Linked DNA regions of Homo sapiens. The protein of the gene in region 2 interacts with the protein of the main gene of each other region in a biochemical or structural test. Each region holds a gene or a part of one and is shown on either strand. Other genes may lie near its edges.

Region 1 (3,653 bases), on a different chromosome or scaffold from region 2:
ATGTCTCAGAAAGGTTTCTCTGGCTAGGGGGTAGAGGAAAGGATTGTTTAATCTCTTTCTTCTTAAAAAGTACCCTCTTGGGCATAATAAAAACTATAGGCTCAAACATGGAATGCATCAGAGATAAGAAGATAAAGCACTTACCCTTAAGAAGCTTGGTCTAATGGGCAGGGCAGAAACCAGTCCCAAAATAGTGTAAAAAGCAAAATGCTCAGCCAGGCCTGGTGGCTCACGCCTGTAATCCCAGCACTTTGGGAGGCTGAGGCGGGCAGATCATTTGAGGTCAGGAGTTCAAGACTAGCCTGGCCAACATGGTGAAACCCCATCTCTACTAAAAATACACACAAAAAAAATTAGCTGGGTGTGGTGGCGCATGCCTGTAATCCCAGCTACTCGGGAGGCTGAGGCAGCAGAATCGCTTGAACCTGAGAGATAGAGGTTGCAGTGAGCTGAGATTGTGTGCCACTGCACTCCAGCCTGGGCGACAGAGCGAGACCCTGTCTCAAGAAAAACAAAACAAAACAAAATAAAACAAAACAAAACTCTACCAGCACCAGGAGTAGATAAGAAGGAGCTCCTAACTCTGCTGTGGGTGCGGGAGAAAACTTGAAAGAAGTGACTTCTGAGCTGAACCTTGAAACATGAGTTCACAAAGTAGATTCAGGGAGTTGGGGGTAGAGTGGGGAATGGGACTAGGTATACAGATAGAGAAAACGTACTCAAGGCAGAGGAAAAAATACAAGTAAAGAAACGGCACTATAAGCTGATTTATATTATAAGAAAGCATCAACACCAAAAAAAGTCAGAATGAAGTGTGTATTTCATGCCAAAAAAATCAAAAGGAGAACAAGTAATTTCCACATTACTTTTAGATGTAATGCTACAACGAGTTAAAAACAAACAAACAGGCTGGGCGCGGTGGCTCACGCCTATAATCCCAGCTCTCAGGGAGGCAGAGGCGGGAGGATAGCTTGAGCCCAGGAGTTCGAGACCTGCCTGAGCAATATAGTGAGACCCCGTTCTCCACAAAAAGGAAGAAACAAACAAACAAACAAAGCAACAACAATACTGACACCTAGAGTAGTCAAATTTATAGAGACAAAAAGTAAAATGGTAGTTGCCAGGGGTTGGGAAGAGAGGGAATGGGGAGTTGTTTAATGAACATGTTTTTATTATTATTATTATTTTTTAAAGATAGGGTCTTGCTCTGTATCCCAGGCTGGAGAGCAGTGGTGCAATCACAGCTCATTGCAGCCTTGAGCTCCTGGTCTCAAGCAATCCTCCTGCCTCAGCCTCCCAAGCAGCTGGAACTACAGGCGTGTGCCACCACGCCTGGCTGTTTAATGGATGTAGAGTTTCGGTTTTGCAAGATGAAGAGTTCTGGAGGTTGACTGTGCAACAATGTAAATGTACTTAACACTACGGAACCATACACTAAAAATGGTTAAGATGGTAAACTGTATGTGTATTTTATCACAATTTTTTAAAATCTAAAAAAAACAAAAAACAAAACAAAAAAAAAAACTGAAACAAACCCCAAAACACTGGACCAGAAGTCAGGAAATCTGAATTCTATTCCCAACTATCGGCGTGATCCTAGGCAACAGCCCATCTGTACTTCAGGTTCCCAATTAAGGTCATAAAAGTTATAAAATGGGCTGGGTGCAGTGGTTCATGCCTGTAATCCCAGCACTTTATGAGGCCGAGGCGGGCAGATCACCTGAGGTTGGAAGTTGGAGACCGGCCTGACCAACATGGAGAAACCCCGTCTCTACTAAAAATACAAAATTAACAGGGTGTGGTGGCACATGCCTATAATCCCAGCTACTCAGGAGGCTGAGGCAGGAGAATTGCTTGAACCCGGGAGGTGGAGGTTGCAGTGAGCCAAGATTGCACCATTGCATTCCAGCCTGGGCAACAAAAGTGAAACTCCGTCTCCAAAAAAAAAAAAAAAAAAAAAAAATTATAAAATAATCTTTAAGGTTCCTTTGGTTCTGATTGTTTGTGATACCATATCATCTCATTTTTTTCTATATTATTTCATCCTTGTATAAAGCCACTAACTTGAGATGGTGATATTCTGGGCATAGATCTTTTCCCCTCAGACCAGTAGTTTACCACTGGCAATTACTTCCCTCTTGGCTTAAAGGTAACTACTGGATTCTACATACTTCTCTACAGCGCCTTTCCCCTTCTCCTCCCCACAAAGCCCTCTTCTAGGTCAGAAGGTTACTGGCACATGAGCAATAAAGGCTAGATAACTTTTGATGTTATTTGCTAATATTTGTAATTATTTAAAACCTCTTCTAGAATAAACTGATGTTATTCATTTTACTATTAGAGCAGATTCATATGGAAAGACAGATAAGAAATGAATATGGGTTATTTGATTTTTATATTATATACAGTAATATATATACACATAAAGATTAAAATAAGTACTTTAGTACATATACTAAATAAAGGGCTTTATCTTACACTACATAATTTTTTCAAAGAAAGAAAAAAAGATACTGATTCGGTACTATTTTTACAAGACCTTTTACTAGGGCATTCTCTGTTACACAGCCATTGGCAAAAAAGTTTAGCACTAAATCTAGGATTTCTCAGTAAGTGACAATGTTATATTTTCTCTAATAACCCTCACCTGCTTCACTTCAGTTAGCCCCATCCTTATTTTATATAAAATTAAAAGATTCTTAGTGCCAGTCTTTCCTCATCAGCTTTTGGGAAGACAAATAGGCAGCAGTCCCAGCATGAGTAGAGAGCCTGTATCAATTACTTGCCTCTCAATTTAGTGAGACTGAGGAGAGTTCAAATGAATTCCAACCCTTAGGCTCTCCTTCCCACACCATCCTAGTTTGTAGTCTCAGTGATAATATGAGCGCCCATTGACTCCTGTTAGATAGAGAAAAGACACTCTCCCTAATGCACAGTCTCTTGATCTCTTCCTATTACAACCTGCTAAACCCTTCTGCTGCAGATACATTAAGGTTTGAAAACTAACAATTTATGGCCAAACAATTAAGCGCGTGTTTAAGATGCAGGAAAAAAATGACACAATTGCTTGTGTTTCTGTTATAGTAGAAAAATTCCAGCCCGGCCAACTTGGCGAAACCCTGTCTCTACTGAAAATACAAAAAATTAGCCGGGCGTGGTGGCACATGCCTGTAATTCCAGCTACTCGGGAGGGTGAGGCAGGAGAATCGCTTGAGCTGGGGAGGCGGAGGTTGCAGTGAGCCAAGATCGTGCCATTGCACTCCAGCCTGGGCGACAGAGTGAGACTCCGTCTTAAAACAAATAAAAAATTAAAAAAAGAAAGAAAGATGACAATTAAAGGGTTTATTTTACCACCACCAAGATAAGTGGAGCTTGTGTAAGTTTTAAATAAATGCATCTATAAGGAAAAAATTGGAAGCTTTCCATTGATTCTTACATCAATGAATATAATTTTAAATATCATTAATGTTCATACTGTTTCATAACTTATACGATTATCTGAATAGTGTTTCAAAAGCACTTGAAATATCTTAAAGATCAAAAGGATCTTAAATGCGTCAAAAATAAGTAAACGTTTAAGTTTTTTTAGCAGTAGGAGAATTCTCATCTTTTTGGAGGGAGGATGGTCAAGAGCTTAGAGAACTATTACAGGT
Region 2 (3,653 bases):
CAGGGACAAGAGCAGCCCTGGCTGTTGCTTACCGTCTCCAAGGTGAAACTTTGGCCTGGATAGCTCCCCAGAGCCTCAGCCCAAGCACACTTGGATTCTACCAGCCAGCCTCCACCTTTGCCCTAGTAAGATCTTAGCCCACTGCTCCATAGCCCCTGCCAGCGTGAAACCAGAGGGAGGCCTTTGCATGAGTTGGGGCAGAGCATGCCCAGCAGCAATCTACCCGTGGAGCTGGCTAGCAGGCTCTCAGGCCACTAAATTCTCAGGGCCAGACTGCCCAAGCCTTACCACTTAAAACCATTCCATTCATTTTTATCATTTTCCAAAGAGCCACAGATTAACTGTTCATTTCTTTGCTCAGTAGACTACACAATCTCAATTAGAAAAGGGACAAGAGGTCAGATGGTCCCGGCCATCTTCAGGTCCCTAGAGTAGGCAAGGGCTGCACTCACAGGCCAACCCCTCCCATGCAGAGGTGTCTCTGCCACCCACACCCTTTGCCCTGAGCCCTAACACCATCAAGCCTAAAGAAATCTAAAGGACTCATCTTCAAAATCAGACTGGAAGCTCCCAGATTTAAACATTCTGAGCATACTAAATCATTACAAAGCATATCTTTCCTTAGTTATCCAAATGATTATGGAAATAAACTACAAATCCAATAACTGCTGATCAAATTCAGGGACTTAAAAAAAAAAAAGCATGACCTTATAACCAGCATCAAGAAGAAAGCATCTACAGGAGGGAGCATGCTCCATGCTCACCTTATAACCAGCATCAAGAAGAAAGCATCTACAGGAGGAAGCATGCTCCATGCTCACCTTATAACCAGCATCAGGAAGAAAGCATCTACAGGGAGAAATCATCTACAGGAGGAAGCATCTACAGGAGGAAGCATGCTCCATGCTCATGACCTTATAACCAGCATCAGGAAGAAGCATCTACAGGAGGAAGCATGCTCCATGCTCTGCTTTGGCAAAGCAGCCAATCCATCCATGAGAACAAATTATATACAGGACAGCGGCAGGCACAGGGCAAGGGCCAGAGGCTCAGATGTGCAAAGTGGGAATGAAAAGGAACAGAGAAGGTGAGTGGATGAGGAAGAACAGGAAAGGAGGGCACTCACGCAGGACAAGGGTGTGAGCTGAGGTAGCTGAAGGCTACACAATGACCAAGTGAGGCCGCCTGGTGGACAGATGGTGCAGCTTCCGGGGAGAAGGCAGGAATGGAGACAGGTGTGGGAATCCTTCATGTCTGGCATAATCATCTATGATGCCGAAAGTAGTAGGGTCCCGAGACAAAACAGAACAGGAGAACAGCAGGAGACCAACAAGAGTCATGTTTAAGAGTGAGGAGGAAGGAGTGGCAGAACAGGAGCGAGTGGCAGGCTGGTCACAGGACTGGGGGCTGGAATGCTGCCCGTGCTCCAAAAGCTCAGGAGGCAAGCAAGGGCCATGATGCCAGCACTGCCGAGCTAGAGGTGTGACAACAGTGGGGGCAGCCTGTGGGCTGGGTGTGACGTGGTTTCAGGAGAGTGAGAGGAAGGGGGATTGCAAACTGGAGTTAATTATAAGACAAGCCTCTTGAAGGGGAGGGGATCAAAGGATGCAGAAAAGAGTAGGCACTAAGAGGGTGCTAAGGAAAGCCATCGTTAGGAGGGCCTTGAGCCCATCAGAAGGCAGAAGACTGTGAGATGGGGGAGCTGGGCTGTGGGGGCAGACACTGGAGGCATAAGCCCCAGAAAAGACATGGGGTGAGGGGAACATGTGGGCAATTAGGAAAAGGGACTTGAGACAAATGGAAGGCACAGGTTGGAGGGGACCAGGAATAAAGCCCGAAATACAGGTATCCAAAGGGTTAGAGACATGAATGCAAAACCAAGAGAGAAAGCAAAATATCTAGAGGGGAATGCTTGTCCCCTCCTGAGGAGCTCAGAGAAGAAGGTCCTGCTGATCCATCAGGCCAGGCGCAGGGAAGTCAGGAAAGAGCAGGAGCACAGACACACTCCTTTTCTCTGTGTCTACAGATCTGCAAAGCTCAGGACTCCCTGAATTTGACAAAACGAGTGCCAAGATGTGACTCTACTCAGGACCCAAGGCTACACTCCCTACCTTATCACCCTAGAGCGACAGCCACTTCTGTGCATCTGCTGGCTGCCTAGACTAAGAGCCTACTAAGGAGCAGAAAAACAAGCCCAACAGCACACACATCACCTTAAAGAATAATCTGGTAGGAAGTGGAAGTGTTCAATACTCACAGGAACAATAAGCCCTTGCCAAGTCAATAAATTAGCTTCATCAACCTGGATGTTACGGAAGTTTTTCATCCCACATTTGCGGATTTCTTCAAGCTCCTGTTGATTGACAAAGCATAAAGGGGTGTCAAATAGGGGAAAGCACCACATATTAAGATCCCTCCTGATGCCCTCAAATTAAACCAAGTGCCAAAAATGCTAATGACAAAATTGGACAGTGAGGACTAAACTGTGCTTGGAGTGGTTAAGGAGGCATGGAGCTGCCATGGCGGTCCCCTCTGCAAGGTTGTTGCCTCTCCCCATGCCCCAGACCAAGACAAGCCCCCACCTCAGTGAACCCCCCTGAATAGGACAGGGGGAACCATGCTTCTGCAGACGTACCACCTCCTCTTTGGGTTGGTCACCATGGCTGTTTAAATCCCTCAGCACCCTGCATAGGGCAGACATGTGGCAGGAGCTATCCTGAGGTGCTCTACACCTGATACCTTCCAATCAAGATTCATTAAGCACTGATTATGCACCGGATGCTGAGAAGCTAAAGATGAATAAAACTGGGGACTGGGAACAAACCAGACACAAACGCATATCCAGTTTTCTACCCAGTGCTATAAGTGTGATTTCAGAAGGACTCCACCTCAACATGGGCACACAGCAAAGAGAACCATCCAGTCTGGGACTGGGGTGGGAGTGGGGGGGTGGGGACGGGAAACCTTCACTGAGCCTGTTTCCTCAGCTGCAAAACAGACCCAGAGTGCAGAAAAGGAAAGGGAAGCCATGTTGTGGGCAACAGGACCCCTTGCAAATATGTGGGGTTATTGTTGTATAAACAGTCAATGCAGCAAGTGCCATTTCACCCAGAAAGCACAACTTTACGACTTCAGGGTCCTGCCTGAGATGTCTTCAGAACTGTCTGTCACCTGTTTTTCAACTGTGCACCAGCCTGACATTTCCCATTGCCTCCAACATCTCAGTGAATGCCTGGCAGGCGCTATAACCCAAACCACCCAGCAATGCCCTCCTGCCAGAACACCAGCCTCGCCAACATTCCTCCACTCTGACACATGAAGTGCCACTCTACCCGCCTCAGCCCGGCCTCCCATCCAGTGGCACAAAAGCCGCCTCCACACCTGTCAGGCACCTTCTCTTCTGCAGCCCGAGCACCATCCAGCTGAGCCCTGCCTCCTTCGCCAGGCTGCTTCCTCTGGCCCAGCTCCAGCACCCTCCAGAACCTCCTTACGTGGTACTTCAACTCACAGTGGCTTGGGGGCTCCCTATCAGCCCCCACATCAAGCCCAAAAGATCCTTGCACCTCATACTTCCATCACACAGTGGTAGTTTAAAAGGCACCCTGAGGCTACACAGGCAGGGAAGGAAACAATTGGCAAGGAAGGGGGAACCG
Region 3 (3,653 bases), on a different chromosome or scaffold from region 2:
CTCCACAAGTATTGTTGTTATACATATAAATGTACTTATGAAACAGCAAACTATTCATCTGGATCCAAGTATCACAATTTATAGCCAATAGGAATTATTCCCATTTTACAAGTGCAAAGAATGTAAGGACAGAGAGATTAAATAACTTATCCAAAGTCACCAAGCTAATTAGTCAGAGCTGGGAGGTCAACTCGAATCTATCCAATTCTAAAGCTAGTGCTCTACTATGCCATATTGTCTTCCCCAGTTCATTCTGGATGAAAAAAGGTTTAAGAACCACATGTTTCACACGTGAACTAAAGCATACGGGAAATGTTTTTTAAAAGCACGGGCAAGTTGGGGAGAGAATACACACACTCCTTCAGGAAAAGAAGCCCAAAACAGAGTTATCAAAATGTCTCTAACAGAAAATAATACAATTTAAATTTCCTACCTTCATTCTCATTAACACACTCCTAATGAGGTGTGTAAATTGATGCAGCCCCTTGGAGAGAAAACTTAACAGTATTTATCTGAAAGTTTAGCCCTCTGACATAGCAATCACATTTCTAGGAAGTTAAACTATACATAAACTCAACCATAAACAACTTTAATGTCCATCAACAGAAGACTGATTTAATATACAATGGATATTATGGGGGTATTAAAAACCAATGAGCTAGATTTTTATGTGCTAATATGCAAAAATCAAAATATACTGTTAAATTTAAAAACAAAAAACAAGAAGTAGAATATGTTTGATTTCCCATTTTTAAAAGGTAAGACATATACCTATCTATGTGTACAAAGAAAATTTCTAAAAGTTTTTATAGAACAGTTACTACCTCTGATATATTAAGATTAGTAAGCTGTGCGAGGAAGCTTTTAAATTCTCATTTTATATGACTGCACAGTCTGAATGTTTTAGAATATAACAAATGAATCTAAAACATGTATTTATTAGGACATTTTGAAAGGAATGAACTTACTCATAAACTGCTTCAGTATATTATTTTTAAAGGGGAGGGGCAGAAAATTAAGCATATTGAATTTCAAATAAAAGATGATCAATCAAAAATGAATACCATCAAGTATTACAAAATAGGCCATGCATCACACTGGTGCTCATACAAAGAATTGGCCCATTGGTCAATGCTTTGTAAAAACTTGCTAAATGTTTTCCAATTTATACTTTAAATTTTAAGTTGCATTACTGAGAAGGTAAATAATATATCACCAGTTTCACTGTACAGATTCTGGGTTGATTCCAGCTGCGTCTGCACGATGCAGATTTTTTTAAATGACTGGAGTAGAAGAAAAAATCCAAGAAGATATGTAAGTGAAAATTACCACTTGCCATGTAATCAAAACAAAACACAAATTTCCTTGCTGACTTCCTGGTTCATTTCCAGCATGAATTTTTGGTGTTTATCAGCCAAGTGTTTATTAAGCTTTCATTTCATTATTAGCTTATGATCTAACAAAATAGTAAATATGTTACATAGCCTTAGAGTATTTATCATTTCTTGTGATATCTAACGAATTTCAATTTCTTTAGAAAAGGCATGGCTGGTTCTATTTTATTTTTATAGAAACGGGGTCTCACTATGTTGCCTAGGCTGGTCTCAAACTCCTGGCCTCAAGCCATCCTCCTGCCTTGGCCTCCCAAAGTGCTGGGATTACAGGAGTGAGCCATCATGCCCAACCATGGTTATATTTTAATTGCCTGCATCAAATGAATATAAAAATCCTTTTACAACTCCCAAAGCTTGCTGTTATGTCTCAGCTAACTGCTTGAGAATTCTTAAAAATTTACTTTACTGTGCCTAGAAATACTACTCAACTTTCACATTTCTTCAGCTATACTAAAGAACAAATCTAAATTCCTTAAAACTTCCATTCAATCCACCTCAATTACATAATACTAACATGGGAAAAAATATACCCTACTCTTAAGCCAAGTAAATACTAAAAATTTAAGAACTGGGATTAAAGGTTATTTCATAAGGAAGTACAAAATGCTTCATTGACATGACTCTAGATTTTGTGTCCACTAAGTATATACTTACAAGGGGGTGGCATGTAATGTCGACATGATGAGAGAGAGGGCTGTGGAGGGGGCTGGGGCTGGGGCTGCGCAACCATGCTTGATCCATAGCCATCTATTGATGATAAAGGTTGACTTGGGGCAGCAGCAGCGGCCTGATGGCCAAAGATTGCAGCTCGGGAGGAAGAAACAGGGCAGCAGGGGTCAAATGCAGATGCTCCATGAAAACTGCCACTTCCATGACTTCTGATACCACTGTTGCTCAGGTCCACTGGCAATGCCTGCTAGATAAAAAGGAAGTATATTTTATCTTTCTAAAGTTTGGTCAAATATTTCATGTTATATTATAAAAGTATTCCTAATATAACCAAAAAAACATAATCTTTAAATTAGTTTGAAACCAGGAAGATTCTTAGTATGAAGAACCAGTGAGCACCAACAAAATACTTGGTTATCTTGAATATAACAAGTGTATCCTGGATTGTGAAAACTGTAGTGGTTTTACAGTTAAACCAATTTTTAAAAATCAAGCATAAGATTTTATCACAAGATGAACAAAAGTTTAATATATTAAAATCTTTTTGTCTTATAACAAATACATCTTAGAAACTTTAAAAATCATACTTCTATATTCTCCTTTATCCCAACATTGTGACTAGTACTTTAGGACTCCTTGAGAAAACATACTATCACACTACTGAAAATATTAAGGTTCTAGGAAAAATCTTGTCTGCCCCAAGTTCCAAACTGTATAAAGCAAGAATTCAATTAAAGTGCTAATAAACAAATCTACATTATTCAAAATAACAATGGACATAAGATTTTTCAGACTAAATCATGAATTACCTTTGCCACTCAAAGCTTTCACTTGTTCAAAAACATAAGAATAAAAAAAGTTAAAGCACTGCTTCCTTTTATAGGCATATTTATTGCATTTTATAGGCACATTTAGTGCTTTGCAGATGTTCGGGGTTTTTTGTTTTATTTTTAATAAATTGAAGGTTTGTGGCGACACTGTGTCAAGCAAGTCTATCAGAGTTATTTTTCCAACAGCATGTGGAAACTCTGTGTCTGTGTCACATTTTGGTAATTCTCTTAATATTTACATTTTTCTCATTATTATTTTATCTGTTATGGTGATATTTGATGAGTAGTCATTGATGTTACTATTATAATTGCTTTAGGCACCAAGAACTGTGCCCATATAAGACAACAAATTTAACAGATAAACATGTGTGTCCTGACCAGATGTTTCCCCATTACCCTGCTCTCCTCTCTTTGGGCCTCCCTATTCCCTGAGACACAACAACATTGAAATTAGGCCAATTAATGGCCTCTGGTATTGAAGTGAAAGGAAGATTTGCACATCTCTCATTTTAAACCAAAACCGAGAAATGATTAAGCTTAGTGAGGAAGGCATGTCAAAAGCCCAGAGAGGCCAAAAGCTAGGCCTCTTGCACCAGTTAGCCAAGTCATGAATGCAAAGGAAAAATCCTTGAAAGAAACTGAAAGCACTCCAGTGAACACACAAATGATAAGAAACTGAAACACCCTTATTGCTGATCTAAAGAAAGTTTTAGTGATCTAGATGGAAGATCAAACCAGCTACAATATTCTCTTAAGCCAA

What was found.
Region 1: the proteins of UBE2L3 (region 2) and XIAP form a complex in vitro, tested with the Homo sapiens proteins (one study listed by BioGRID).
Region 3: the proteins of UBE2L3 (region 2) and RNF111 form a complex in vitro, tested with the Homo sapiens proteins (one study listed by BioGRID).

The regions. Positions count from the first base shown.
Region 1 is NC_000023.11:123,901,491-123,905,143, reverse strand, and holds part of XIAP (E3 ubiquitin-protein ligase XIAP), read right to left. Parts: intron 1-3,653.
Region 2 is NC_000022.11:21,591,561-21,595,213, reverse strand, and holds part of UBE2L3 (ubiquitin-conjugating enzyme E2 L3), read right to left. Parts: intron 2,354-3,653; coding exon 2,258-2,353; intron 1-2,257. UniProt on the Homo sapiens protein: Ubiquitin-conjugating enzyme E2 that specifically acts with HECT-type and RBR family E3 ubiquitin-protein ligases.
Region 3 is NC_000015.10:59,074,611-59,078,263, reverse strand, and holds part of RNF111 (E3 ubiquitin-protein ligase Arkadia), read right to left. Parts: intron 2,311-3,653; coding exon 2,049-2,310; intron 1-2,048. UniProt on the Homo sapiens protein: E3 ubiquitin-protein ligase. Required for mesoderm patterning during embryonic development. Acts as an enhancer of the transcriptional responses of the SMAD2/SMAD3 effectors, which are activated downstream of BMP.